Homo sapiens: one gene and its partners. The protein of the gene in region 1 interacts with the protein of each later gene in a pairwise test. Each region holds a gene or a part of one and is shown on either strand. Other genes may lie near its edges. The genes, in order: FAM124B, MIPOL1, KCTD9 and USP54.

The links.
Region 2: the proteins of FAM124B (region 1) and MIPOL1 interact in binary tests that used the Homo sapiens proteins (3 or more experiments, as listed by UniProt).
Region 3: the proteins of FAM124B (region 1) and KCTD9 interact in binary tests that used the Homo sapiens proteins (3 or more experiments, as listed by UniProt).
Region 4: the proteins of FAM124B (region 1) and USP54 interact in binary tests that used the Homo sapiens proteins (3 or more experiments, as listed by UniProt).

Annotation. Positions count from the first base shown.
Region 1 is NC_000002.12:224,377,574-224,385,297, reverse strand, and holds the end of FAM124B (protein FAM124B), read left to right. Parts: intron 1-5,089; coding exon 5,090-5,725; 3' UTR 5,726-6,600; downstream 6,601-7,724.
Region 2 is NC_000014.9:37,543,492-37,551,305, forward strand, and holds the end of MIPOL1 (mirror-image polydactyly gene 1 protein), read left to right. Parts: intron 1-3,413; coding exon 3,414-3,480; 3' UTR 3,481-7,768; downstream 7,769-7,814.
Region 3 is NC_000008.11:25,440,980-25,448,793, forward strand, and holds part of KCTD9 (BTB/POZ domain-containing protein KCTD9), read right to left. Parts: intron 5,272-7,814; coding exon 5,150-5,271; intron 3,357-5,149; coding exon 3,313-3,356; intron 1-3,312. UniProt on the Homo sapiens protein: Substrate-specific adapter of a BCR (BTB-CUL3-RBX1) E3 ubiquitin-protein ligase complex, which mediates the ubiquitination of target proteins, leading to their degradation by the proteasome.
Region 4 is NC_000010.11:73,497,023-73,504,836, forward strand, and holds the end of USP54 (ubiquitin carboxyl-terminal hydrolase 54), read right to left. Parts: exon of another isoform or gene 7,783-7,814; intron 7,251-7,782; exon of another isoform or gene 7,162-7,250; intron 3,817-7,161; coding exon 3,633-3,816; intron 2,666-3,632; exon of another isoform or gene 2,573-2,665; intron 2,167-2,572; coding exon 1,607-2,166; 3' UTR 516-1,606; downstream 1-515.

The DNA of each region.
Region 1 (7,724 bases):
TTCAAGGTCAAATTCTACCAAGAGCTCAAGAAATAATGAATGACAGGAGGGCTGATTGTAGATGACCTTGGCAAGAGCAATTTCATTGGAGTGGTAGGAGGGAATTACCAGCGTGGTGTAAGAAGAGGCAGACAGTAAAGGGTGAGGCAGGCCACATCCAAGGACTTAGATTTTATCTTGTCAGTGGCATGGGTAGAGAAAATAAGGGGAGGTTTGTAGAAAAACATAACTACACAAATTTTATATACAGGTTTGACAGTGAAGGGGAGGACAGAGAAACCTGGAGGGAAAGAGAGGGTGGAAAGAATGTGTTTTTCAAGACACGAGACTTGAACAAGTTTAATTGCTGTTGGAAAGGAATAGGCAGAGAGAGAGAAAGAGAAGGAGAGGGAGAGAGATTAAACATCCAAGATAAGAAAGTGGGAAAAATGAATAATTGATAGGTCAGGGTCACCAAGAAGGCGGGAGGTGATGGGAGTCTTGGCCCAGGGACCGGTCACTTTCACCTAGAGAGAATGGTGAAGCTGCAGGTAAGTTTCGCGGTAGCAGTGAGAGTGTTGCTAACTGGTGACAGCATCTGCTTCCTTGATAATCTGGATGGTGAGACCACCTGATGAGAGAGAGTGGGGGCGATGGTGCTGCTGAAGATTTCAGGACAGTTTTGAAGGTTTGAACAGCTGCTGGGTGAATGGAGAGAGGTGACTAAGGAAGCAGGCAGACTGGCGGGTAGCCTGGGAGAGGCCGGAAACCACGCCATCATGGGGCACCCATTTCACAGACCGATGTGTTTCTGTGGCATCCTGAACACATGTTCAGAAAATGTGGGCAGGTAGATGGATGAAAGGTGGGGAGATTTTGTGGGAGTCTGTGACAGAATGGGAATAGTGAGGGGAGTTGGAGGTATTGGTGAAGAAATGGTTGAAGTGATAGTCTTTGGACTCAAATTGACTCTGAAAGGCAGTGTGGATGGGAGGGGCTGACAGGGAGAAGCTGGGGATTGGGAGTGTTGATGTTGAAGAGCAGATGTGATGGGGAATTGAGTGCCGGAGCCCATGGCCTCAGAATGCCTGGCTTAAATAGAATCTTTCAAAGATGGGACATTTGCAGGTGGAGAAGGCCCAGTGGAGGGGCTGTGGGACTGGGTGACAGAGGGGAGTGGAGGGGTGAGCTGGGCTGGCCCAGGAGGGCGCTTCCTGGCTGCCCTGAGATGTCTCGGCACTGGTTGGGGCTTCAGGACCAATTTCATTATGATCTGACATTGATTTAGATGGCAAGGGGCGATTACTCAGGCTTCTCTCTGTGTTCACAGTTGCTAGAGAATGAAATACAAGCCCCAGAGTCAAAGTTATTGATTTCTTTCTCCAGATTGGATAATCTAATATCAACCCTGAACCATTTCTCAGTATGGAAATATCCATGCCAGTTTCCATTTCTAGAAGAAAAAGATGTCATTGGGTCAATTAAAAAGGTACATTATGATACAAGGGTACAGTGTCAAATGATTCTCCAAGAGGCAATGATGGCAGTTGGCCCTTTGAAGGACTAAGGGAGTTTGTTCTCCAGGGGAAGGGAAACCCCAGCTGACATTTCGGAGATAGTATTTTTTCCTCCTGATTTTGAAAGGATAAGCAAATAGTCTTCATTGGAAAGTGAGAATTTGGGGGTGATTTGAGGTTGGGATAGGGAGAAGGCTTTACTTTTTATTTTATACATTTGTACAATGAAATTATTTTTATGGTGATAAATTACTACTTTTATAGTAAGACTTTTTTAAAAAAACAAACAGATGAAAAGGAAAGAAAGGAAAGGAAGGGCAGGAGGAAGGAAGGAGAGAAGGAAGAAAGGAGGGGAGGGAGGGCGGAGCTGTGGAATTAGAGCAAAGGGAAATGTAGAGAGAGATAGCAAAATGAAATTAGGCAAAGAATTTTTCAGAAATATGGAGGAGGAGGTCGGGTGTATGTGATAAGAAACAGACTCACAACGACCGCAAGTTAACTGACTACTCGAAGCCTAGCTTTTCTGGGTCCATGGCAGTAGTTCCGAAACTTCGCTGCACATTAGAATTACTGGGGGAGATTTATCAGCTCTGACAGCCAGGTGTACTCTGACCTGATGAAATCAGGAGGTCATGGGCTGGGAGCAGGCATCATTGTTTTTTAATGATCCCAGGATGTTCCCTTGTGCAGCAAAGTTTGGGAACAGAAATTTCTCCTATGGGTTTGCATAAGGACAGGTCCTTCGGTGCAGTGGGCATCCCTTCAACAGTGTCGCCCCTAGAGAGAGTATCTGATGCTGGTGGAAGCTCTCTTCAACACACTCTGGGGCACTGCACTCAGCTGTGGTTCAGTGCAAGCACATCTGCGATAGGGGTTTCAGGTGTGTGTGGCTCTAATGAACTGGCTTGGCTCAGGGGTAGAATTTAGATATTCTAGAATAGTGGTTTTCAAGCTGGTTCTGTGAAGCCCTGGGGAACTAGAGAGGGGGTCCCGTAGGCAGAGGCTACCCTCTGTACGTCAACCAGGGCTGCGCTAATTAGATTGCTTCATATTTTGGGCTTCCAGGTAAGAAATTGTTTGGAAAAAAACTTCTTAAGATAGAGAGATGGCTCACTCCTGTCATCCAGCATTTTGGGAGGCCAAGGTGGATGGATCACCTTAGGTTGGGAGTTTGAGACCAGCCTGACCAATATGGAGAAACCTCATCTCTACTAAAAATACAAAATTAGCTGGGCGTGGTGGTGCATGCCTGTAACCCTAGCTACTAGGGAGGCTGAGGCAGGAGAATCACTTGAACCTGGCAGGTGGAGGTTGCAGTGAGCTGAGATTGCGCCATTGCACTCCAGATTGGGCAACAAGAGCAAAACTCCATCTCAAAAAAAAAAAAAAAAAAAAAGACAGGGAATCATTGATCTAGAATAGGGCTTGGTCAACTGTGGCCTGAGAACTAAAAATAGTTTTCTATTTTTATATGGTTGGAAAAAAATTCATGACACATAAAAAATATGAGATTCAAATTTCAGTGTTCATACATAGAGTTTTACTGAACACAGCCATTCATTTATATATTGTCTATGGCTGCTCTGCAGCAGAGTTGGATAGTTGGGATAAAGACCATATGGCCGGCAAACCCTCAGATATTTACTGTCTGGCTCCTTGCCGAAAATATTTGCCAACTTCTATTCTAAAAGAATCAGTGGAAGTCCTTGTTTTTTTGTGTGTTTGTTTTTGCAGCTTGGTAATATGCACCTCACCATTTCTATCAGAAAATTGAGATGTACTCTGCGTCATCTATACAAACAAATATGCTCTGTGTGAGTGTGTGTGTGTGTGTATGAGAGAGAGAATTTACTGATTTCTAGACCTGTTTTCTCACTGTCCTCATTTCTGCCTTCTTGCCTTGTAAGATAAATATGTATCATTATTTTTTCTCCCTTGAAATAGACCTTATTTTTTACAGCAGTGGTAGGTTCACAGCAGAATTAAGCAGAAAGAACAGAGAGTTCCCATATACAACCTTCCCCCCGAAAAGAGCCTCCTTTCCTGTCAACATCCTTTATCAGAGTGGTACATGTGTTACAACTGATCAACCTACAACGACACATCACCATCACCCAAAGCCCATAGGGTACATTAGGGTTCATTCTTGGTGTCGTACATTCTGTGGGTTTGGACAAATGTATAAGGATGTGCATCCACCATTACAGTATCATGCAGAGTAGTTTTCACTGCCCTAAAGTCCTCCTGCTCCACTTAGTCATCCCTCCCTCCCCCCAACCCCTGGCAACCACTGATTTTTTTACTGTCTTCATAGTTTTGGTTTTTCCAAAGTGTCATATAGTTGGCATCATATAGTCTCTCTCTGTCACCCAGGCTGGAGTGCAGTGGTGCAGTCATAACTCAATTTAACCTCGAACTCCTGGGCTCGAGGGATCCTCCCTCTTCTGCCTTCTGAATAGCTGGGACTATATGTATGGACCACACGTCTGGCTGATGTTTTTATTTTTTGTAAAGATGGGGTCTTGCTAGTTGCCCAAGCTGGTCTTGAACTCCTGGCCTCAAGTAGTCCTCCCACCTCAGCTTCCCAAAGGGCTAGGATTACAGGCATGAGCCCAGATAGGCTTCTTTCAGTTAGTAGTATTTATTGCAAGTTCTTCCGTATCATTCTTCTTGATATTTGATTAAGGGCTGGGCCAGGTAGGGATGGATCCTGGATACAAATTTCCAAGGGCTGTTATCAAAATGGAAAAAATTGCCTTTTTCCAGAAATCTTCTTGGGAAGAGTGTTGTGCATGGAATAGGATGCAAGGCTCCCAAGGGTGGAAGTCTTAAAGGGGGGTCAGTGAACTCCATCCTGTGGAGGGAGAGTGCAGTCAACTGCAGGGTGAGGGTTTTGCTGAGTGGTGTCTGTAAGTTTGTAACCAGAGTGGAATTGCTAAGGATGAAAACACCTAAACTTCCATATAAGCCATGCCCCCTTTTTGTTTTCTCATGCAATACCAGGCCTCTAATCTAAATAAATGGTGCCCCAAGAATTTAAAGAATATTGCTGCCAAATTATTAGCCGTCTGGAGTGGTCACATGTCTTAGAATGGCCCAAGATATGTATTTTTATTAGCATGATCTAAAAGAAGGATCACCAGCTTTGGAAGATTGAATTCTTACTTCAATCCTTATCTTAACTTTAACCACATGGTTTGGTGGCTTTCTAAATTTCTTTTTTTACATGGTTGCTAATAAATATATCATTTACAACATCCAGTGAGGTCACTGAATGACATCTGTGAATGTCTGCATTGTTTGAACAACTTGCTCTACCAGAAGTGTGGTGTTGTCAATTGGCCATTTGATTCCCAAAGTCTTACCCTTGTCAAAAACTTAATTTAGGGAGTCCCAAAGAGAGGTATTTGGGGCTGGGTCTGATTAGATATCTCATAATTATATTGTACTTATCACTTCTATTCAATTCAACCAAATTTACTGAAAGTCTGCTATGGGCATGGCATGGCAGAGGGTGAATAAGGCATAGTCAGCTCTTGGCACTTAGTTAATGGAAATTATGTTTCATATGTTCCTCCTTTCCTTTCCTGTAGGTTCAGCTGAATCCAGAACTTGGTGTTAAGAATGGCATCTTGGGAGCTGGCATGCTTCCCCTGGGCTCCAGGCTGACTTCTGTCTCTGCAAAGAGGACCTCAGAACCCAGGAGCCAGAGGAACCAGGGCAAGAGGTCCCAGGGGCATTCTCTGGAGCTTCCTGAGCCCAGTGGGAGCCCCACATCAGACAGGTGTGCTGGCACTTCGTGGAAAAGCCCTGGCCGGTCATTCCAGGTCAGCAGCCCAGCTATGGGTGCCCACCTGCACCTGTCTTCTCATCACCTTGAATCCGGGGCCAGAATGAAGGTCCTCAACCGGGAAAACAGCTTTCAGAAGCTTGAGGCCGAGACGAATGTTGACACCGGCTTGACCATCATAAATTCTGAACCCAGGCAGACTTATTTTGGCGGATTTCCAAGGGATTTACAGACCAGCCAGCCACCATTCTGCTTGCCAGCCTCTTCCTTGGGGGTGGCTACCTCCAAAAACAACAGTGTCCTTAAGGAAAGAGTCTCTCCTTTGCCACTTGCTGGCCAAAGGGACCTTGGTACCAGGAAGACAATTTCAGAATGTCTCCTTCATCTGCAAGTTCAGGGTGAAGAAAAAGAAGAAGATGAAGAAGAATTCTTTATATAGCATAAAATAAATGTGGTTTTCTAAAACACAAGATCAGATAAAATGTTCTAGAAATGGAGTACTGACCCAGAATCAGCCTGTTAGTTGTTCATCTGAGGGGGGCTGAATGCTCCCCATGCACAATCTGTATTGATTTTATTTCAAATGTTCAAAGTCTAAAGGTGCTGGGAATGATTGTTTATTTGCCGTCACAGTCATAAGAGAACACAGCCAACACACAGGGAAAAAAACCGAATGCTTTTGTTCCGTGGAGATGCACTAACCCAGCTGGATGTGTTGAATCCAGCACCTATCAGGATAATTGCATTGTATGCAAATGAATCGGTATGTTATACAACACTAATTAGTGTCTGTAATTTGGTTTTAATTTTTACTTAGGTTGCATAGCTCATCCCCCTGGACAATATGGACTGCTATTTACTCTTGAATGCTTTTTAATTTTCATGTGACCTCTTTTGGTAACTAGGCCTTGTTCACATACCCTCCTTGTGATTTTGTCTTTAAAGTTGTTTGTATCTGGAATGAGTGAAAATGCAAAGTGTTTTGAAAATTATAAACAGTTAATTTTGTTTTCCTGTTTAATGAGCCAAAATACTGGAAGCCAGAAAATCAGGTTGAACATGAATGCTAGGCTCTAGGGCTTTCCTGCTCATCTGCTTCTCATTTGTTTCTGCACTATGTCAAAGAGGACAGTGGTTCTTGTTACAAACCAAAGAGGAACATTGAGCACAGTGGGAAAATTGGACTGGTTGATCTGGTCACTGGAGCAGGACTTGGGTTCTTCTGGCCAGATTTTGACTCCCAGATTCCTTTACAAAACGCACTCATTCATTCATTTATATATGTTCATTCAATAAACATTTTTTGAATACCTACATTTGAATAAGACATTGTGTATATGGTACATATACATTCTGGGGCCATGAAACCCAAAAAGTGTTTATGGTTTCACCACTCTGATAAATTCATTCTACCAACTTTTAAAAAGATACTGAATTCCAAATATATTCCTCCAAAAACTTTTTCCACAGTTGAGGCCCACACTGGCCACATAATGGTGTAATAAGCATTTGCAACCTGCAGATGGAGACTGGGCATATTATGAATTGCAATTATAATTGCAATGGACAAATTCTCGTTGCCCATATGCTGAATTTTTTGGATATGTCTGTACACACATGTTTAAAAATCCCGAGGCCTGTGTTTCAGTTCATTTATAAGGTTATTCAATTCCACGAACTTCACTCTCAGAACAGATGTTACATAAGAGTGTAAATGTTGATTTAGCTGGATCTTTTGGAGACTTGGAGACTTACTACACCTAACTGGAGACAGAGATGAGTTCAGTCCTAAAGTCAAATCTTGCAAAAGTGAGTCTAGGCTGATTTTGGGTGCTCTTCTCCGCAAAAGGGATAGAAACGGAGGAGAGTTGTAAATGGACAAAGACAAGACTCCTCAATTGATATTTTTTGTCCTTAAAACATCAACATATTCTCATTCCCATTTTGTCTCTCTCTCCCCTAGACTACAATTTGATTTTAGAAAACGGGATGAAGAGCTTAACTTTGGTATAGCTTTCTATAATAAGAGTTAAAACAAAAAAGGAAGTTGAACTACTGAACTTTGAATAAGCACAGCAGGAAGAAGTTTTGAAATTTCCTTCCCACTTTTTTTTTGATGTTATCTAAATTTTCTTAATATAATACATGGGTAAGAATAAAAGTACCTGAAAATTATAAAGAATATTGAGAAATGTGAATCAGGCACCTTACAAAATTGACTTGTAAAATAATATACCCTTAAAATGTCATCTATTCTATCCTACTTGTATTATTCAGGGTTCCCTAGAGGAACAGAACTAATAGGATAGATAGATGTATATATGAAAGGGAGTTTATTAAGGAGTATTGACTCACACAATCACAAGGTGAAGTCCCACAATAGGCTGTCTGCAAGCTGAAGAGCAAGGAAGCCAGTCCAAGTCCCAAAACCTCAAAAG
Region 2 (7,814 bases), on another chromosome or scaffold:
GTCTTGAACTCCTGGCCTCAAGTGATCTGCCCGTCTCGGCCTCCCAAAGTGATGGGACTACAGGCGTGAGCCACCTTGTCTGGCCTGACATATTTTTTAATTGGGGTAAAATGTCATAACATAAATTTATCATCTTAACCATTTTTAAGTGTATAGTTTAATGGCAGTAAGTACATTCACACCATTGTGCTCATTAGGATATTTTTTAAATAAAAGGCTATGTGGTCTTCTGACCTACAGGTCAACCTGCCTTCATCCCATCTCTGCATTCTTGGCAATATGAACTTTCTAAAATGCAAATGATGTTACTAGATGAGTTAAAACCCTTTCATTGTGTTCCCCTGTCTACATCAGTTGTTTCATCACAAAGTTTTCACAGGTTCAAATTGAAGTAAATAAAAAAATACAATATACCAAGTTTTTCTTAAATATTTTAGCTGAAAGGTTGAGTGAGTGAATGGATGGCAACATTAATCAAGATAAGAAATACTGAAACATGCATAAGAAGTAAAATAGTTTTGTTTTAAATATACTGAGTATCATAGGCCAATTGTATAAGCAAGAGGAGATTTCTTGAAGGCAGTTGGATAAGTGAGTCTAAAACTCAGAAGAGAATTTTGAGAAAGGGGTCTAGATTTGGAAGTCATGAGCGTTTAAGTGTCATCAAGGGAGCAAAATGAAAAGAAAAGATGATAAAATACATCAACATTAAAAATACCAACAAAACAACAACCATAGTGATAAAAGAAACAAAAATCATATTTAAAGTCTTCTCATCCTTCTGACTGAGAGAGGGCAAGATCTTTAATACTAATGGCAAACCCTAGGTGCAGCATTTTTAGTGACTTTGTCTCCTCCTCCTCACAACCTTGTATAAGGGTTTACTTGTCTGTTCTTCAGTTTCTTCATATTTAAAATGGAGAAATCCTAATCCTAGCTCTAGCCCTTTTCCTGTTTCATGAAGCTGTTGAGAAGATATCACTGAGTAATATTTAAAGCAGCTGGAGCCTATTTTAGTGAGCTACATAATTTTTTAAGGACATTATTGATTTGGACAGTAAGAATAGCCTGCAGGCAAATCCTGCAAGGTGCTTCAACAGACACACACGTCTACCTTCCTGTTGGCACAGCCCATGTTTGGCAGGTGTATTCCATTCCTTACAGGAAGGAATAGGTGCTTCATTGTGTTACAGAAGTCAGTAAGCTTTCACAAAACTAAGTAATTGACATCTTTCTCATTTCTGAGATCAGGTTTTCATAAATCATTCGACCTGGATAAATTGAGATTGTAGTTGATGTGGTAATTGTTGAAATACAATGAGGACATTGCAAAACATGATATTTAACTATTTCCTCCTAATCTCTTACCTTAACAACATATAAGAGTTCTAAATGGAAAGATGTCCTAATGTAGAAAAAGGAAACAAAAGTAAGATGAGCCTGTCTGTAAAGGAGAAGCCAGAAGAAGCACAACACAGATTCATCTCAGTAATTTGGGATTCCACTGATTCTGAATTTGTAGTAACAATAATAATAACTAGACAACATAGAGCTGACTTTTATATTGTGAAAAAGGTTTTATCACTAGTTAGTAGTATAAATTATATTATGGAGAAGGGATACATTTAGCCAGTTTGCAAGTAATATTTTCTGGCTTTTAACAATATATGCAAAGCAATGCTACTAATATCTTATAATGATTTCTGCTGGGAGCTATTTAATGGTTATTTCAAGTTACTATCAGATTTTAACAATAAACTTAAAATTTCATAGTGTAGTTCTATAATTCATACTCACATTTTTCTTTCCCCTCATTGCACAACTCAAGTTAATTAAACATTGCCTTAAAGGATTCATGTAGTGCTATGAGTCATAATATTCAGAGTGTGTAAGTTAGCACTAGTTTTTAACCACTAGGGAAGGTTCAAGTATTGCAGACTAATCTGAGAATACAGTGAATTTTCTAATGACTCTTCTAGTTCAGGTATTTGTACCACTAGACTGTTTTAGTGGATATACAACATTTATGTATAGTTTGCATTTTAGAAAAGTTTGTAGTAATAAACTTAGACAAGATTTGCCTTTTTACTCTAAGATCATTACTGTGTTCTTAAAGCAAAGTTTTTTGATGCACTGAATAATTTTGTTTTATTTTCCTGTTTTTTGTTAACAGAATTCTTGATAGATACAAAATCATCCAATAAACTTCAGCTAGTTTTCAGCATTATATGCAGTTGATTTGTCCATTCCTCAGTGGAACTTCCAAATCATCTAAACCAGCTTTGTATGACACTAAGAATACCCTCATTCCTTCAGTGTCTAGCTCTGTGCTGTGTTTATTTGCAGAGGACCCTCATGCATGGATCCATATAAATGAGGCAAACTGTGAAGCAGACTAGACTGTGCCGCTTACCGTAAAGTCTTTGAGAGAGGAAGATTGTGTATATGAAAACTGCTAGGCATGATATTTACTTATAAGGAAGATTTCTATGTGTATAACATCAAGCAAGATTTTTGGTTGAGGTTTTATGCTTTCAGTAAAGAAAATAAAAGAAGAAAACCAATTAATGGTCTGATTCTATCATCTTTTGTCAAGCATCTCTTACTGATCTACATGAATGTGACCTCCCGCTCATAGAGTAGTCTAAGAACACTGCAGAATGGACTTGTGAACTTTCGACTCTCTTTTCAATTTAATTGACTAGTTTTTAGTCAACTAAAAAAATCATTTTCTTTGACTAAAATGTCTATGTAGGTAATTTCTAGTGCATCTATGCTACTCAGAAATAGAAACGTGTTTTTTTAATTAGAACAAAAAGTCTGGTTTTATTAGTATCAAATCATTGTGTATTTTTAAATTATTTCCATGCTACTGTAACTTGAAATGTTTCCCACCTAACCACTATTTCTGGCTTTATGTTTATCAGCTGATTCTATGAAAAGATGGGAATTTAGTACATAGAAGTTACACAGTATACCAACCAATGAATCACTTATCTAAGTAACAGGTGAAACATTGCTGATATTTGTGTTTTGAAATATGTGCTTTTCTTAGGTAAAATCAGTTTATTCTACATTTAATATGTGATCCTGTCATTGCATAGTAAATGATTCATTCACAACCTTAATGCAAGTAGCTAAATGTATTGAAATAAGTGTCCTATAAATTTTGTGTGGCATCTAATGCTGACATAATTCAAGGATCTGGGTTAAAGTTTGTGTCGTTGCTGGGTTTTTTAACCTCAAATACTTGGCACTCTGTAGCAGTGTCTCTCACAGTAATGCTTTGTTTCTTAACATGACCGTGAGGACTGCTTGGTCACAGGCAAATACTGTCCTTTATCAGCCAGGACATTCTTAACAATAATTGCCCTTTTTTTCCCCTTCTCACCCCCATCCCAACCCCAACTTAGGTTGGAAAGGCTGGTGGATGTACTGAGGAAGAAGGTTGGAACCGGGACCATGAGGACAGTGATCTGATTGAAAAAAAACGACAGTCTGGGGAAGCGATCACATCTGGTGACCAGGCTGCTTCATTCAACACTGTGTAAACACCAAAGCCTTAACTTAGCAAACAGTTGTTAGAAGTGGGACACTCCAACCACATTCCAAGCTGAGATAAAATCAAATCACAAATGTTTAACCACTTTGCTGCTGACTTGAGTTATTTATCCAAATATATTAACTATAGACTTTTACCAATGGGTAGCTATAAGGTTACAGCTTATTTTGTAACTATTTTATATCTCAATATCTTTAATATAAATCTTTTTACTGAGAGATCATTATAGAAACATGTTAAAGTTGGTTAGGATCATATCTTCACATATGGCCCTTTCTGAATCAAAGTGCGGCAAAGTAAATATTGTCTAAGCTTTAATCCACTGTGTTAGGTCAAAACTTCAAATACATGCATTTTTCAATATAGGGTATATTTCTTAACTGATGAGAGAGGCTTAGACATGAGTGTGTAGTCTTCCTTCAATGCGTGTATGTAATCTTTGTTAGTATAAAAGATATTAAATATAGGTGCCAAGAATTAAATGTATAATTTGTTTAATAAGAGATGGATATATTAAAATTACATTCATCAAGGCATGATTTTTGTTTCACTACAAATAATGCAAACTGTTTTCAATAAAAAGAGGAGACTGTTAATGTGTACTTATAAATTCACATTGTCAGTATTTTTTAATATTGGGTCTGAATAATTATCTGAATTCTACTTAAGCTATAAGTCTCTGTCATTTTTGCTTGAAAATTAGCATGCCTCTGTCTTAAAAGAGACCATCAAACCTATTAAGTATTCTTATTGTTTATCTTTTTTTAATTGCCATTTGATTTTTATTGTGGAGGAGGAGGATCTAATATATAATATTCAATACAATTGTAATGTAGAAATATAAGAATTTAGAAAAAAGTAAACTTGCCATTTGGTTAAGGTTACCTGCTTTTTATTTTATTCCAGAAATAAGATAGTTACAGCATAGCAGTCATATGAAGTTATGAATAGAACTGAGATTTTTATGTAATTAGTTATAGGCAAAATACTTTCATATTTTTAGATTAGACAGACGAAAGACCAAGAGGAAATGACTGTGCCTGGAACAGGATGAAATAGACAAGTAGAGATTTAATTAGCAAAAATTTTGTAGGGAAGTAAAATTTTTTCTAAGTCTATACGTTTTTAATTCATCTTTAAGATTGAGCTAAATTATCTACCATTGCCTATTTACAGGATAAGTACATTCAGGACAATTTATTGTACCATTCTTTCATATACCATAGCAGATTATCCATTTCAATTTTTTTTTACTCCACAGGAAAATGTAAGCTACTTTGTCATAGATCACAAAAGAATCATAATGCTAACAAACTCTATTTCTTCCTTATTAAATCTGTATCCATTAAAGTAACTTTTTTAACTATGAGAATTAGAAAATAAGGGACAACAGGGGTTAAAAATAAACTGATTTAATTTGCTCTATAGTCCTAAAGAGAATTATATCCTCTCATAGACCAATGACTCTATAATAGAGAAATATGTAATGATTTGGTCATGCATGGAGTCTTGTCTCTGGGCTCTATTTGAAACGTGTAACAGCTCCCTATGTGAAGAAACATTATCTTTAAAGTCATCTGGGAGGTGCAGGTAAGTAAAGAGAAACAATTTTTGTCACAAAGTAGTCCATTCCTGATCTCACTTAAAATAAATCACAAGTAAATTTGAATTTTCGGTTTAATGTTGAAAGCAGATGAACTTTTCTTGAGTTATTTTGTCTTTTAGAATACACAAAATATAGTATAAAGACATTTCACAATTTCCAAACAAATCTTTCTACGCTTAAATGATCAAATTAGAAAAACCAATTCCTATAATTAATATGCAGAACTTTTATAGAATATGATATTATAAAGTTAAATTTGCAAAATAATTCTAACATCCACTATTGTTCAGTATAGGTAATCTCCCAAAAATATCACATCCTCTTGAAAATGAATTGTCTACAAAATTTCAAATGCAAAGTATTACAGCCAAATATTATCTTAATTAATTTCTTACACTTAAAAGTGTCCATCAACAGTGTGTCAGATGGTCTTTATATATTTTTTCTGTATGAAGGAATAGCCTTGCCTACTGAAGATAGGTTCTCTATGTATTCAACAATAATGCAACTTTAGAAGTATTCCACACTGCTGAGAAATGTTGCTTTGAGTTTGCTTTACACATCATCAACTCTAAATCCTATAGTAACATGAGAATTCACTTCTTCTTGTAAAAATAAGTAATTTACAGGAAAGGCAAAATGCTAATACTAACATTTGTAGCACTTGATGATTTACAAAGTCCTTTTACATCTGTTTTTTCATTTGATCCTATCGACAATCATAATAATAATAAATTATATATATAACCCATATAATAACGATGGTGATGATAATTTTAGTATTACTGTCATTATAATTATTATTATATTCATTCTACAGATGAGGAAACAGACTCAGTAAGCCTTGGAATTTGCCAAGGACTGGCTAGGACCTAGAACTAAGATCTTATAACCACACTCCATGCAACTATGAGTCTCTAAATCTCTCTGTAAGAAAAAAATTTCAAAGTAAAGATTTTACTCTTGCAATTTCTGTTGTGATAGTACCATCTCTTTCACATACTACATACAAATTCCCTAATAATCAAAAGATTGTACACATTTTTTTCAATGAAGTACAATAATGTGAACTGCATGTGTAAACAGCATCACATTATTACCACCTCTCTATGGTATTATAGTGGCAGTATGCTTTGCCTCAGCCTTCACTAATTAGGAATATTGTGACAATTCATTGCTAATAAAACATAACATGAGTCTCTTTGTACTGTTTTTAATTTGGCCTGATGCTAAAACCTATCAGCTTAGTTTTTTAACATGGTAGTCTAAACTTCAAGGCTTGCTCTATCTCCTAGAGCAATTTAGAGCTAAAACCAGTAATAAGCAAAGTTATTGGTTATAAGCAAGGTATAAGCAGTTAAAGCAAAGTTATTAATTATTAATATATGAGAATTTAAAATTTTATAAATAAGTTAGAAATTATTAATGTATTTTAAATATGGAGTAAAATATTTTGCTAATTTTTTTCAATGATAAAGTTGATCCTTTGTATATTTCCTTATTCAAATAAATTCAGTCATCTTCTTATCAGGTTGCTTATTTATATAATTTGTTTATTTTATTAAAAATCTAGAATATTAAAGATTTATACTTTTAATATTGAATATAGTTTCGTAGAAAAACATTTTATATGTACTATTCTTAAAGATCACAATTATTTTTAAACTTTCTATTTTCAAATACTTGTGATTAATAAGGCATTCTATGATGAAATAGCCATGGCTTATATATTTTTGTCTTTTCACATATGATGTGTTTGGAACCCAAATTTTTTACTGATTTTATTGTGTTGTTGGTAACTAGTATTTACAGCTAACCTATCTATTCATATTTTACATATATATATATATATATACATGCACACACACCGATACATTTACCTTTTAAAAAAATGATTTATAAGTGAACTGTTAGGCTCCAGTGATTTCAGTGTTTTGTTCATGTTTTATTGGAAATGCACGTGGTTTCTTAGGCTTTTAAACAAATACATGGAATGGTTGAAAGATTTATTTTGCTCGTGCTTAGCTAAATATGTCATCTCTAGAAAAGATGTGGTTTGTTTTGGCACTGTTTTAAAAACTCAAATATTTTAAACATTTGTTAAGTTGGAGCTTGCACATTTAAACCAGCAGCATACGTTCCAGAAGAGCATCTCAAGTTACCAAATTTTTTGTAATCCTTTTACTAGAAAAATCTTTTTTGAAGAGTTTTTCTTGTGCTTGCTTCGGCAGCATATATACTGAAATTAGAAAAAGAAAACTTTTCTTTTTTATTATATATTTTAGTGTAAGTTAAGTTAAACTTCTAAAAGTTGAATTATTTAATGTAGGACTTCATAAATAGTATTTGACAATGATAAATGTGTATTTTTGAGAATCATTAAAATGTATACAATGATATTCCTTTGCAGAAGTCTTAATATGCATAATTTTTAATCTAATTGTCTTCTAAATATAGTTTTGGTGTATGCTGGTATTTTAGAAGCCACCAATTTCTGGACTATCTGATTATTAACAAAGATGTATTTTAATGCACAAACTCAAATGTTTAAAATATATATTTACTTTGTACTCAAATAAAATCCCCTATTGCAAATCCTATACATATTTCAATGCAATTCTTATACATCGATCTTAATCAAATTTA
Region 3 (7,814 bases), on another chromosome or scaffold:
TAATAAGTCTAGCTGAAAACAACAGATTGAGATCATCCCAAAAGTGGGTGATGCAAGTAGTTTGCAGTAAGATCTTATAGGGCTGAAAATAAACTCTTAAAACCAAATGGCCAAAACTCCCTTCCATGGACAAAGCCCCATACTGATAAGATGCTGGGAAAATAATCCAAGTTGAATGCAACAAAGACAACAGAGACAAAAAAAAAAAAGGACTGCAGATGAAAGTTAAGAGGTTTAATAGACCAGAATATATCAGAAAATGAGTTCTGTGTATTTTAAACACTTCACAAAAACAACAGAAAAGGGAACTCTAGAGCCATGAAATTGGAAAAACTGTCCTGTCAGCCCTCTTTTCAAGTTAAGAAAAACTAATTTCATATAAAAATGAGCAATACAAAAAGACTGATCAAATGTTAATACAAAAGTGTTAAAATAATAATTGTCCTTATAGATAATGAAAACATGCCAGAAATACCCACAAAATAGATCAAAATTATAATCTAATATTCCAAAACATGCTAAAAGAAGTTTATACAAGGTATAAAACAACAATATAAACCAGGATTTAAAAATTCAGAAATGAGTAGCAAGAACTCCCAAGAGAATTAGAAATAAAAGAAAAATGATTTTTAAAGACTAAAGCAAAAGAAATACAAGAGTGATTAAACACAATAGACAATGACTTAAGGGAAAGAAAAGGTAAAAAAGAGAATAGCTTGAAAAATTAAAAAGAAATGGTCAGACGTGGTGGCTCATGCCTATAATCCTCTGGGAGGCCGAGGCGGGTGGATTGCTTGAGCTCAGGAGTTCGAGACCAGCCTGGGCAACAGGGCAAAACCCCAAAACCCCATCTCTACAAAAAATACAAAAAAATTATCCGGGCATGGTAGCACACATCTGCAGTCCCAGCTCCTGGTTGGGGGCTGAGGCAGGAGGATCACTTGAACCCAGGAGGTTGAAGCTGTAGTGAGCCAAGATCATACCACTGCACTACAGCCTGAGTGATGAAGTGAGGCCCTGTCTCAAAAAAATAAATAAAATAAAAAGAAAGGAAAAGAAAGTTTCAAACATAAAAGACAAGTGTAAAAGATCCACCCTACATACAATAGAGTCCTGAAAGAAGGAAATCAAATCAAAGTGAACAAAATAAAAATGTCAACTTCAAGAGAACTGTACTGAAATTTTAAAATACATACACTTGAAACTATATATTGAAAGGATCCATCACATACTGAGAAAACCAATCCAGAACAACTCAGAACACCAATAAATATTCTACTAAAATTACTGTACTTTAAAGAAAGAGAAATATCCTTTGGGTGATCTATGAAAAATAATCACATAAGAAAGATCAGATTTTTTGAGACCAACACCTCAGGCCAGAATAAAATGCAGTAACATATTTAAGATATTCAAAGAAAAATAATGTGAACCAAGGATTTTTCAATAGCTTCACTGAGGTATAATTAACACAGAACAAGTTACACATACTAAAGTTTATAATTTAATAAGCTTTGACATATAATTTTATACCAAAATTATATAAAGATGGTGGATGGCAATGGCATCTTGCCATTGGAAGATGTCACCGAATATTGTTCTCATAGTATCTTGGAGAGAAATCTACTAGAGAACAAGTTTCAGATAAACACTGGAAACATAACAAAAGGACTGGAGGTAAGTGTACGCTTGAAGAAGTAAAACTAAATGAGTGTATAAAGGGAGACACTATAATATACAATGGCTATATGTTCCGACAATTCAGAAACAATACAATTATTTTTAAGTAAGGGGAGAAGGGATTTAGCATATGAAAAACATTTAACTGTTTTTAGTAATTATATTGGTACTGAAAGTATTGAGTTTGTTACTCTGACATTTTTAGATGTGTTCTGTATGGGGTAAAGTAAATGAGTAATTATGTGACATTATAATTCTATTAGTCTCCATGTCCCTGAAAGTCAGGACTATTGATATAGAAAAAGGAGACACAGATGTAAGACAGAAGAGGATAAGTAAAAACCTTATAATCCTTAATATAAACTTTAAGTACTACTATGAAGCCATGAGTTATTTCATCTATCCATATTTTGTTATATATGACATATAAACTTTATATCCTATAACATACATTATATACAAATTTTATCTCTACCTATATATTTTCAATTCTGTCCACCAAAAGGCATAGCAACAATAATGAACCCAATAGCGAAGAGCCTCCCTAGCACCCAGATTTGTCTTGGAATGACACTTCCCACTAAAAAAATCAAGGCTTGTTGGAAAAATGTTGATCCAGGTCTGAGACAGGAAAAGGTTTTAAGATGAACACCAGTTATTCCAGATAATAAGAAAGCCATAAAATCCAACAAGGTTTGTTAAAAAGACCCGAAGAGATTTCCAGTGGCAAAAAATTAAGACCATCTGAACATCAATAAATGCAGAGGATGAAAATATACCAAATATTTTTAAATCCATGAGTTAATAACAATAAAAAAACCTTAATTGATCATTTTTTATTGTGTTTGTATGCAGTGGACCAATTAAGTGACCATTGCCTGCCAGTCACTGTTAGGCCAATGGATAAAAGAAGATGAGAAGTTCTTGCTTACAGTTTTAAGGTAGAGACAGACAGACAAGAGTATGCACTTACTTCTAAGTTGACAATTGCCTGTGCAACAATCGTGAGAACTACTTCCACTCACCAAATGCAATTAGTATGATGCTTTAAAAAATACTTAAATATTCAGAGTGTGGACTGTATGGATCTAAATAAATCAAATACTTTATCTTCCTTTCGGCCTTTTCTTTTGAGATATACAACTATAAGCTTTCTTCCAAATCAAAGGGTAGTGTGTGTGCACACCTGTGTGTGTGGTTGATACCAAGTCATTTTTTGGCTGATCTGATCACTGTGAAATACTGTCAAACACTACTTACGCAAGCAATATTTACTCACAAATATGTAATACAACACGTAGAAAAATTTTGACATTCACCATCAAAGAAAAAATTTTCAAACAAAACAATTGTTTCTAAGATCAAAACTACCTTACTATGTTACAGTTAATGAATATGTATACCTCCAGAGCATTTTAACGGCATGTAAAACATGCATCTATAATAAACTACGATCATATAGTAAAAAATTTACTTTAACATACCCAATGCAGAATCAAAAAGTGTGAAGATTTGAATACAGCCATAAGATCATTTTTAATGTTTAAGCTTAATAGCCCCATTTAAAATAATTGTCATTCCATCTTTTTTTTTTTTTTTTGGCAGATAAAATTGGCTTTTAAAGTCACTTACCAATAAATGGCTCTCCTTCACAAACAAACAAAACATCATCATCCCTGGGGAAATCAAAATTTAAAAAGCTACCATCAAAATCTAAAAATCACATTAATTATCTGTTGCTTATAGGAACTATTCCTTACAATTATATAGACAATAGGTTTTGCTATCAATCTAGACTGCAAAGAAGCTAAGTTTCCAATGCTTTGTTTAACCCCTTGAACTTAACTGTCTTTGAATTTAAATTCAAAAATAAGATCTTGCACATGAAAGTACTTTTGAAATGTGGGGAAAAAAATCTCCTTACACAAACGATGTTGAGTTCAGCTTTCTTATCAATTGAGAATGAATAATTATGCTGAAAGGATAGATTAAAGTCACAGCCAACTATTCTTTTTTTCTTTACATTTTTTACCCCTAAATCATCAGCTGTTGTGTGCTTTGGAGATGAAATAAACTGTCATATTAAATCTAGGAAAAATATAGCTGGAAGTAACTCTACTGTCAGTGTTTACCCACTACACATCCACCATACACCCAAATGTAAATGGCTGCACATAACCCAGAGTTCTGGACAATCAGTGCACATCCTCTTCCTCAACCCATTACCCCAGATACTGTATTGTGAACCAAAAATGAATAAACAGATATCTTATAGCTCAGAAGGCTTCAATTATAACCTTCCATTGTAGACGTTTTTATTTCCTATAGGACATCACAGGACACGTTAAATTTTTCTAAGAAGCAGAGTTCGTGTTTGTTAAGAAGAAAGTTAGGTTGATGAGGATCATCATCCAACAATGTGACTCAGTTTTCCTTAGAAACTGAAAGAAGCTGGGAGATACATATTGAAAAACTAAGAAGTTATCCTAATTTATTTGGATTTAAAATGTAGTGTATAGTATTTCCTACTTGTTCACCATGCCAGTTTACTTTTTCAGATTAGTATAAAAATCTGTTTTCATTAACAAAACCCAACTAGCTGTATGACCTGAGTGAGTCCTCAGCTTCACAGGTAATTCGTTTCCTCATCTGTAAAATGAAGGGTCTAGAACTGATTAACTGCAAAGCAGTATATTATACTGAAAGGTCATTTTGATCTAGATTTATACAGAGACTTTGTATATCATTATAGGTTAAAGCATCATTATCTTCACATCACTGATAAAAAAAACTCATGTTTTGCCAATTAAATGGTATAACTCAGGCAAAGCAATGATAACATAAGTGGCATAGTCAATACTTAATTTGTGTTCCCTTTACCATCTTCTTTGTTAAGCATCTTCCTGCTCCAAAATTCTCTGACCTCATGAAGATGAAGTAAGGTGAACTACACACTTGTTTTAAAGAGATAAATCTGCCTGAGATATTTAAGGTACAAACATAAGCCTATAATTATGGTGGATCACTGGTGATATCACTACTTAGAATTCTATCATATTTATAAAGTTTTTACAAAATCTGGCCTTTGTAATGATTATAAAATGCAAAGCATTCTTAGGAAATGATTAACAAGCAGGCGCATATAAAAGTGAAGAGATGAATTAGATTTTTAATGTTAAAAACTGCACGTCTTACTAGATCCTTCTCTAGTACCACAAAGAAGAAATTCCTCATAGCTATATATGAACTATGCAGAAAGACTATCAGTATACTGAAATGTACTAAGGGTTTTCTAGCTGATCAATTCACCTTAAGCCCAAATGATTTAAATTCCAAAGAGCAAATTCTAGGTAAACACTTGCCAAAATCCTGTACTCTTAACAGTGATTAAATTACTGCTTAAGGGAAACAGCATAGCACCAAGAAGTTGAGGCACACTGTTGACAGCTTATAAAAAGGTGAAGGTTACCTGATCAAAGCAATATCATCAATCAGTCCACCTTTCCCATTATACACACTGGTGGCTTTTATGCCGAGTTTACTGCTGGCCACAGAAAGCAAATCAGATAAAGTTCCATATACAGCAACCACCTGTAAACACACCAGAATAATATGAACAATTTCTTTAATACATGTTATCCCCCATAAGTTATAAACTACCACACTAGAACAGTGCTAAAAAGATTATCATATAAAAGGAGACTTCAAAAGGTTCTTAACAGTGCCCCCTTTTCTTCCATGACTCATTTATTCACTTGGTGCCTAATATTGCCGACTCCTCAACTAGAACATAAGAAATCATCTCTGACCAAAACAATCTACAATCCTAAGGTGTGTTAAATAGCGCTCCAGTTGTGAAGTAAGATAGACCTACACTTCGATCTAGAGTCTGACATTTTCTAGCTGTCAACTTGAGTCAACCTACTGATGCTTCTGTTGCTTTAACTAGAAATGAAGAAAATAGTAGCACCTACTTCAGAAGGTATTATGAAATGAGTTCATGCATAAGAGCTTAGCAAAGTGCCTGAGACCTAGTAAGTCCCTATTATGTTGTCCTTTTATTATTTATTTATTTGAATGGTTCATCCTTAGAACAGGAGTGTGCTGGTACTGTTTATTATATCATTAACGACATCAACTACCACAGAAAAGATAACTTCTCACCTCATTTATTTAATTCTTCACTAACTAAGCCAGATTTTAGCATCTAACATTTAAGAACAGAGCAAACAGCTGGGTGACAATGAATTGATGTGTCCTGCTGTGAATCAAGCAGTCTGATATATGTGCAAGATACATGCAACTGTCTAAGCAGGGTGCTGAGAATTTCTACATGTAAGTGAATTTTGTGCCCTGGTCCTAACTGTAACTATGGGTTCCCAGCGACTGAGTTGTGCAGTTGCACCATTATCAGTTATGACCTCTGAAAGTTAGGAATAAAAACTAGGTAAGGGTCGGGCGCAGTGGTTCATGCCTGTAATCCCAGCACTTTGTGAGGCTGAGACGGGCAGAGCACTTAAGGCCTGGAGTTTGAGACCAGCCAGACCAACATGGAGAAACCCCATCCCTACTAAAATACAAAAATCAGCCAGGTGTGGTGGTGTATGCCTGTAGCTACTCCAGAGGCTGAAGCATGAGAATTGCTTGAACCCAGGAGGCAGAGGTTGCAGTGAGCCAAGGTTGCACCACTGCACTCCAGCCTTTATGACCAAGCAAGGCTCTGTCTCCCCGCTAAAAAAAGAAAAATAAGTAGGTGAAGAGCTAAACACGAAGCACAGTCAGCTAGCTCATGGACGTCCCAAGATTTATTATGTCAAGATGCCATATGAAGTGAGCACTAAGGCTGGTCCTCTGTCCACCAGTGACTGGAATAGAGTGGACAGTTTCTAGTTAAATAAATACAGTAAATGGAGGACATGGAAAAAGCTGCTCGATAACATACGAGTGTGCAGTTTTTCAAAAGCAGAGTACTCAGATTCTAACTTTTTTCTCTTGGATCAGAAGGATGAAAGCCAGAAGAGTGCTGGGGCATTTTGGAAAGTGTTGAAGGCAAGAAAAATTTAAGCGGAACCAAGTGCATTATAAAAAATAATGTACAACCCAAGTGTCCATAAGCAGGTAATTGCATAAATAAAATATGGTATATATATACAATGGAATATTATTCAGCAATAAGAAACAATGAGGCCAGGTACAATGGCTCATGCCTGTAATCCCAGCACTTTGAGAGGCTGTGGCAGGTGGATCGCTTGAGCCCAGGAGTTCGAGACCTGCCTGGCCAACATGGTGAAACATGGTCTCTACAAAAAAATACAAAAAGTAGCCAAGCATGGAGGCACATGCCTGTAGTCTTAGCTGCTTGGGAGGCCGAGATGGGAGGATCACTTGAGCCTGCCAATTCAAGGCTGCAGTGAGCCAAGATCACGCCACTGCACTCCAGCCTGGACATGATGGGACGGAAAAGAAAAAAGGAAAGGAAAAAGAAAAGAGAAAAGGAAAGGAAAGGAAAGAATAAAGAAAAAGGAAAGGAAAGCAAAGCGAGAAGAGAAGAGACATGAATTCTGACACATGCTGCAACATGGATGAACCTTTTTGACAGTATGCTAAATGAAATAAGCCAGTCACAAAAGGATAAATATTCTATGATACCACTCACATGAAAGTACCCAACACAGGCAAATTCATAGAGAAAGAAAGCAGAATAAAGGTTACCAAGGCATAGATGGGAATGGAGACTTATTTCTTAATGGTTACAATTTCTGTTTGGGATGATGACCAAGTACTGGAAATAAACCGTGGTGATGGTTACACACATTGTGAATGTAAACAATGTCAATGAATTACACATTTAAAAAATGGTTAAAATAATAAATTTTGTTCCATCTTTTATCACAATAAAAAAAATACTGCAAAGCACTTGGCACAGTGTCCTACACACAGCAGGCTTGCCATAAATAATTAAAGCCTGAGTAGGGCTGGGCGCGGTGGCTCACGCCTGTAAAATCTGCACTATGGGAGGCTGAGGCGGATGGATTGCTTAAGCTCAGGAGTTCGAGACCAGCTTGGGCAACACAGTGAAACCCCATCTCTACTAAAATACAAAAAATTAGCCGGGCGTGGTGGCGTGTGCCTGT
Region 4 (7,814 bases), on another chromosome or scaffold:
CCAAAAAGGGAACCCACAAGCTATTTTTTAGAGGGAAGAGTCTCGGGAGTGAGGCACAGGTGAAAATGGATCTTTCTGGCATGGAAGGGCCATAACACCACAGGGGAAGGGAAAGGGAGAGGCCCCCACGGAAGGAGAGGAAGGAAGGGACAGGAGGCACGTCACAAACTTATAAGATAGAGGGAAGGCACCTGGAGTACATTGATCAGGAGTGAGTCTGTAAGAAGAGCTTGAATCCCCAGAAAATCTTCCTAAGGAGGGGAGGAAGGAAGTGTATAATGTACTGAGTACTGAATGCTCTGTCAGGAAAGGGATGGGAAACATCCTAGCAGCAATACTAGAAAGGAAAGGCACCCTATTTTAGGACCCATTGATTCCCACCTTGATTGTATATCCTTCAACTCGTCTCTGGCTCCTCACTTCCACTCAGTCAAAAGCCACTTCATATATTTATCCAGACTTCCAGCCCCAATACAAAGAAAGCAAGAGCATACAAAGGGAAGAATGACAAGGAATTAAATAGAACTGTCTTATAGATTTATTAATGAAAAATACTTTACAAAAACAGTATGTTTGGCCTAAAATAGTTCAGCTGACTCTGAGGGTTTACATTGACGACTGAGCAAGTGGCAATAATGGCTGTGTTATTGAGGACAGAAGGCTGTGTTAGTGTGCCTGACTCCATCTGTTCAAAAGGGTGAATGTTATGTTGGCAGCTCCGCATTCTAGGCCTAAGGTTTGGAGGGCACAGGGAATGCTGACAGGCCATAATACCTGGGCAGGGGGGCTGCCCTGATGATGTCATCAGAACCATGACCACAGGGCTACATGTCCCCCCAAGGATGGGAGACAGGGAAGACAAAGGGTCAGGTAATAGGGATAGGTGGATAAAACAAAGAGTAGAAGTTGGGAGTATAGTAGGGAACAGAGGATGAGGGCTCAGGTGGAGGTGGGGACATAAAGCATCCAGGAATAAAATGTGACCTTAAAATCCTAAGGAATGGCTAGTATCCAGAGTAATACCATGGATTCATCTTTAAAGTGGCTCAGATAAAACCCTTAAACAGCAGCTGCTTCCTTTTGCTAGGGGGAATGGAAGTTGGAATTTCAAATATCCCCTCCCAAAGAATCACATCTTTTTAGAGGTTCCTGACACCCTTAGGAGAACCCACCAATTCTATGTTGAGATGAGAATAGCACAACCATGGCAGTGATGCAGGGTACCAACGCTGCCACAGTAGTTTATTTTGTTGTTGTTTTGTTTTGTTTTTTGAGATGGAGTCTCACTCTATTGCCAAGCTGGAGTGCAGTGGTGCGATCTCGGCTCACTGCAACCTCTGCCTCCCGGGTTCAAGCAATTCTCCTGCCTCAGCCTTCCGAGTAGTTGGGACTACAGGCACGCACCGTCACGCCTGGCTAATTTTTTGTATTTTGGTAGAGACGGGGTTTCACCATGTTGGCCAGGATGGTCTCAATCTCCTGACCTCGTGATCCACCCGCCTCAGCCTCCCAAAGTGCTGGGATTACAGGTGTGAGCCACCGCGCCCGGCCCACAGTACAGTTTTACAAAGAAAGGTGTAGCTCCAGGAAAGGAAAGGAATAACCTTTACCATTGACTGTGCTGCAGGACTCTAGCCCTGATCTGCTCTCTTCTGGGAGCATCTGATAGAACAAACAGAAACCCCTCTCCCACTGTTCTCCTGTGTCCAGAGTGGGAGGCATAACTGCTTTGCCTCCAGTCATCATCTGGGGGCATATCTACTCTTCGAGGACCAGGGGTTCGGGACCCTGGAACAGGATCTGAATTCCAAGCTGACCTCAGGGGTACATGAAGACTGCTAGATGGTGGGTACACAGGATGAACAATGGGAGGGTGGGAGGGTGAATGGAAAAGATCACTCCAGGACTGAGTGTGAGGAACCTGAAGGCCCTTGCTTCTTTCTGGTAGTGTGGCAGTGTAGGTTAGTTGAGGATTGCACCCTGGAGTAGTCAGGAATCTGGTCCCAATATGCTGGTTGGTCTCTGACCAGGGTGCCCAGGAGTTGTCTGTTCTGGAGCGATGGGGGAGGCTCTGGTAGTTCAAAGTCCTTCCTGTGTACTTGGCCCCTTGGGAAGTTTCACCCCTGTCACACATAGCCAGAAACTGCTGGACACTCCTTGAAGTTCCTGGGGAAAGAAAAGAAACCCAAAGACTGAGCATCTTCAGAAAACCATTCTCCTTCCCAGAGAGCCATGCCTAGCTGTGTAGCCCAATTCCCTACTCCTCCAAGAGCATACATACAAGGGAAAGAATGAATCAAGCTGTGCTTTTGATTCCATTTCTTAAAATTCTTAATATACATCAAAATCAAATCTCATACCTCCAACCTGGGCAAATGAAACAGTCTCATGGATGTTGCCATACCTCTACCTCCCTCCACTATAATCTCTCATCCACTATACACACACCTACAAAAGAAGGGCTCCCTAATATATAGCAATATATGGCAAACGTATACTCCCTTTGTGATGACTATACTCCTAGAGCCACCATACCAAAACCTCACGCAGCTTTTCTTTTTAAAAAAAATAGAGACGGGATCTCACTGTGTTGCCCAGGCTGGTCTCGAACTGCTGGACTCAAGTCATCCTCCCATCTTGGCCTCCCAAAGTGCTGGAATTACAGGTGTGAGACGCTGTGCCTTGCTTTTTTTTTGTTTCTCCAACTTTTCTTAAAATGTTACCTTCACTTCAGTTAAGCTGCCTTTGTTTGATCTCTGAGATCTAATGTGGAATGCCTTTTCTTATACATTTATTCAACTTTGGCACTCTTGGTATCTTGGGCTGATAATTCTTTGTTGGGGTTGGGGAGAGACTGCCCTGTGCATTGTGTGATTTATTAATGAAAAATACTTTGCAAAAACAGTATGTTTGGCCTAAAATAGTTCAGCTGACTCTGAGGGTTTACAACAACAACTGAGCAAGTGACAATAATGGCTGTGCTGTTGAGGACATCCCTGGCCTCTACCCACTAGATACCGGTGGTACATCCCCTTTATCCATTGAGAACCACTGCCTCAAGCTTGTACATCCAGTGCATGAGGGGAAAAAAGAGAACATCTCACTCGGAAGGTCAAAGAAAGCCAAAATGATATTGCCCACCTTCCCCACAATTGTCTGGGTCTGTACACATGGTGTGGGTACTCCATGTAAAGGGTCTTTCCAATTCTCCCACTCATTCCTTATCTTCCTAGACCATCCCTCAGCTGAGACTCAGAGGATAGAAGGGGAGAAAACTAGCTCAGAGGATAGAAGGAGAGATGACCATTTCTGTTCTGGGGATGTCCCAAAGACTGGGTATTAACTCCCCTTTGTCAGTTAAAAGCTTATTCTGTCATGACTGAAGCAGGTCATTTTCGTAAGTAGACAGACTCTAGGGGTGCTGGTCTAAACCCTTGGTCTAAGAATCATGGTGCCCAACAAATGATTTAATATTTATCTAGATAAATGCACGACTTTGAAGCAGTAATTCATATCTTCACACCACTCCACCTTGGGATACCCCCCTCCCCATAGGTATACTGATTTGACCCTTGGAGGCCCCTGAAAAGGTACCAAATTCTGGCATATAATATTAGATTTGGGGGAGTTACCTGGGAGTCTATTGGGCTCCCCTGCCATGGTGGGCATCAGGACATCTGGGGACAGGAACTGTGGTTGGGGAAGGTAGAGTTGGGGACCGAGGAGAAACACAGAAGGGTCATGGATGACAGGGAGGGAAGAGGAGCTGGAACAACGGTGCCCGGTTTCCAAAGGCTTCCTCACGTTTGATGAATCCTTATAATGAGACAAGACAAAAAAACATAGAGATGAGGATTAACACAAAGCAGGATGTAGTTGGGTAAACACAGTGAGGCAAGCAAAGGGAAATGGAGGGAACCAGAGCACAAACATGCCTACATGCCTTGTTCTGGAACAGGACCCAATTTACTCAGTTGCTCTCCCTGCTAGCCCTCTAAGAAACTGCAAACTTCAGATCCTTATCCCTTAACCAGTCTTCCTCATATCCCTCACCTTCCCAACCCTATCATTCAGGTCTTTAGCAAACTCCTTAATGCTAACAGTAGAATTAGAGAGATTGAGATAGAAATTTAAAAATAAAAACGAAATATGAGAAATTCAGAAAGCCTGAGAGAATGAGAAAAAAAAATCCTTCACTTATTCTAAGTACTGGGAATGAAACTATATATGTTTAAATGTAGAATCAAGAACTCTACCCCATCTTCTCTCCTGTCACTGCTACACATTCCACAGCTTCCTCTTTTGCCTGTCAAGTTTGTATTTACTGATGCTAATGTCCTGCTCTACTCCCTATTAGTTATCTACTTTTATGATAAATACCCAGAAATATTCCCCTTTAACATCTGAAACACTAACATATCCAAAATTGAACCAAAATCCTTCCAAACTCCTCCTCCTGGCACCTCATTTTCCTAAATCACCCATATTCAAACATTGGCAATGACCTTGATTTCCCACTTCCCATCCACAATTCCATTACTTGCCAAGGACTATCATTTCTACCTATGGGTTTTATATTTAAATTCACCTGGACTACTGCAACAGCCTTCAATCTGCTTTTCCTATCTCCCATCCACTCCTCCTTACTGTGGCCTACAAGGTCCTGTGTGATATGGCCCTGCTGCTCCTCACTTTATTTCCTATCATTCCTGGAGCTTTTACACTCTAACTTTAATATTCCTCAAACACACCAAGCTCATTGCTACCTCAGAGTCTTTATACTTCCTGTTTCTGTTACCAAGAATATTCTTCTGATGGCTCATACTTTCATATCACTGAGATCTCTAATCAAAAGTTACTTCCTTAGAGCTGATTTCCCTCACTACCCTACTATCAGGAATAGCCCTCAAAAAAACCACTATTACCTCTTTACTCTTTATTCTCTTGCCTTATTATTCTTTATCATACTTATCATTGTCTGGCATTATGTCATTTATTTGTTTATTGTCTTCTCCCCTATTTCTTTTTACTTCTGTATCCGCAGCACCTTGAACAGTGCCTAGAACAATGTGGGCACTTAGTAATAATACATTAAATAAAATAATCTATATGCCAGTATGTCTAATTTCCTTTACGAGACTGCAAGCTACTCAAGGGCAGAATTTGTGTTGTTTCATCAGTGTATGCTCACAGCACCTACTACAAAATGGCACAAAGTAAGCATTTATCATACTGCCTAAGGACCAGGTGCCAGTCCTCTCAGCATGTGACACAGCTAATTATTCCTTTCTTCTTTTTTTTTTTGAGACGGAGTCTCGCTCTGTCACCCAGGCTGGAGTGCAGTGGCGCAATCTCGGCTCACTCACTGCAAGCTCTGCCTCCTGGGTTCACACCATTCTCCTGCCTCAGCTTCCCAAGTAGCTGGGACTACAGGCACCCGCCACCGCGCCCAGCTAATTTTTTTGTATTTTTAGTAGAGACGGCATTTCACTGTGTTAGCCAGGATGGTCTCAATCTCCTGACCTTATGATCTGCCCGCCTCAGCCTCCCAAAGTGCTGGGATTACAGGCGTGAGCCACCGCGCCCGGCTATTCCTTTCTTCTTGAAACACTCTCCCCTTGGTGACTATGGTACCACACATCCTTGGTTTCCCTTCAGTCTCTCTAATCTTTTTTTCTCAGTCTCCTTTTAGGGTTCTTCAGAAGAACCACCTTAAATCTGATGCTCTTTAGGGATATGTCCTGGCTCCTCTTCTCTTTCTGCAAGTCTTTTCCTCTTTTTCAATGGCTATGATTCCCAGATTTCAATTTGCAGCTTATATATCTCATTCCAAAAGCCTGCCAGATACCTCCACTCAAGCTTAATATATGTAAAACTGAATGCATATCTTCCCTCAAATATATCATTATCTACCCATAAAACTTGAGTATCATCCTTTATCCCCACTCCCAACATCCAGGCAGGCACCAACTCCCACTGATGTTTACTTCCTAACTGGGTCTCAAATACATCGACTTATCTCTATCCTTCCAAACTACTTACTGTGACATACAGGGCTGTCTGTGGTCCATAATATTCTTTGTATCCTCTCTTGTCAACACTCTCCATCATCTCCCCTTGCCAGACTTTCTAATCCTGCCATACTAAATAAGCTTCTTTTAATTCAGTTAATATTTGCTCAGGTCCCTTTTACTTGCTATATTCTTTTTGCTTCCTCCAGGAAGCCTTCCATGATACCTCAAGCCTGATTTAAATATCCCTTCTATTATGTTCCCATAGGATCAAATCCTTAACACATTATAACTGTTTGTTTATTTATCCGTCCCTCACTGTAGACTGTAAGCTCCATAAAAGCAGGGACTATATCTAACTCACCATTGTAGCTCCAGCACCTAGCACAATACCTAGAACACACTCAATAAGCACTTATTTATTTGTTTATTTTTGTGCTAGGAATCTTGTACAGAATCAATAAGCATTTATTTAAAAGAATGAATCAATGAATGATACAGAAGTCAGAAGAAAGGAAGCCAACTCTCCTAGGAAAAGAACAATTTGCCATTAAATGAATTGAAAGTACATGAGAACAAATGCTAGGCAGGAGAGTCCACCTTTTCCAAAAAAGAATGGCAGCCTGATCAGAATTGCTTAGGAATTTATGAACGATAAATTGAATGAAACTTACTATAAATTCGGCTGGGTTTTTTTGTTTGTTTTGTTTTGTTTTTGAGACAGAGTCTTGCTCTGTTACCCAGGCTGGAGTGCAGTGGCTCAATCTCAGCTCACTGCAACCTCTGCCACCCGGATTCAAGCGATTCTCCTGCCTCAGCCTCCCGAGTAGCTAGGACTACAAGCACCCCCCACCATGCCTGGCTAATTTTTATATTTTTGCCATGTTGGCCAGGCTGGTCTCGAACTCCTGACCTCAGGTGATCCACCATCCTTGGCCTCCCAAAGTGCTGGGATTACAGGCATGAGCCACCACGCCTGGCCTCGGCTGATTTTTAAAAATTGGAAAAATGAGTACCTCTTAGGAGGGAAACTGAATCTGAAGGGCTGGTAGAAGACAGACTTGGTTTTCACCATATATGCTTTTATACCTTTTTATTTTTGTACCATGTATTTAAAATCTGTTTTTACATTTTTCCTGAACTGACCTAGTGGACAACCTTCAATGCACTGGTACTTTGTACCCTGACCTCTACTGTGATGAACACTCAACTTGGGCAAGGAAGTGAAATTCTCCAAAGGTATGATTACCTACAAACCTAGCCACTGATATTATTTAAGTTTGTTGATCTCTAATGGCTTGGGCTTTCCTGCCTCTTCTACTTACACATTACTGCACTAGTACCATATGAAAATTCTCAAGAAGGCTTTTTTCCTCTTCTTGCTGATACACATGCATCACTTTAGATTGAAAACACACTGAATTCTATTCAATCACATACTGGGGGTGAGAGGAAAAAGCAAACCAATACTCCATCCCATTTCTTTCCTTCTTTCTTTGATTAGTGCAGTGGGTTCTGACCCAATCAGCAGCCTTTGCTTCTCAGATTCCTCTCAAGGCTTTATGACTCTTCTCACCCCAGGAAACCCTACAACACGCACGGCCTTTCAGAACTGCTACATGGAATGGACATTCCTCTGGGCTCCAGCTGAATGTTTGTAAATAAAATAATGACTGCGTGTCCTTATTTTTGCTGAGTACACAGGGCCTTTCCTCACATTACAACCTTCACTTTCTCCCTGCTTCTTCACCTGCACTGTATTTTTGCTTAGCAAGGAGGAGGGTGCTCTGAATAGATGGACCC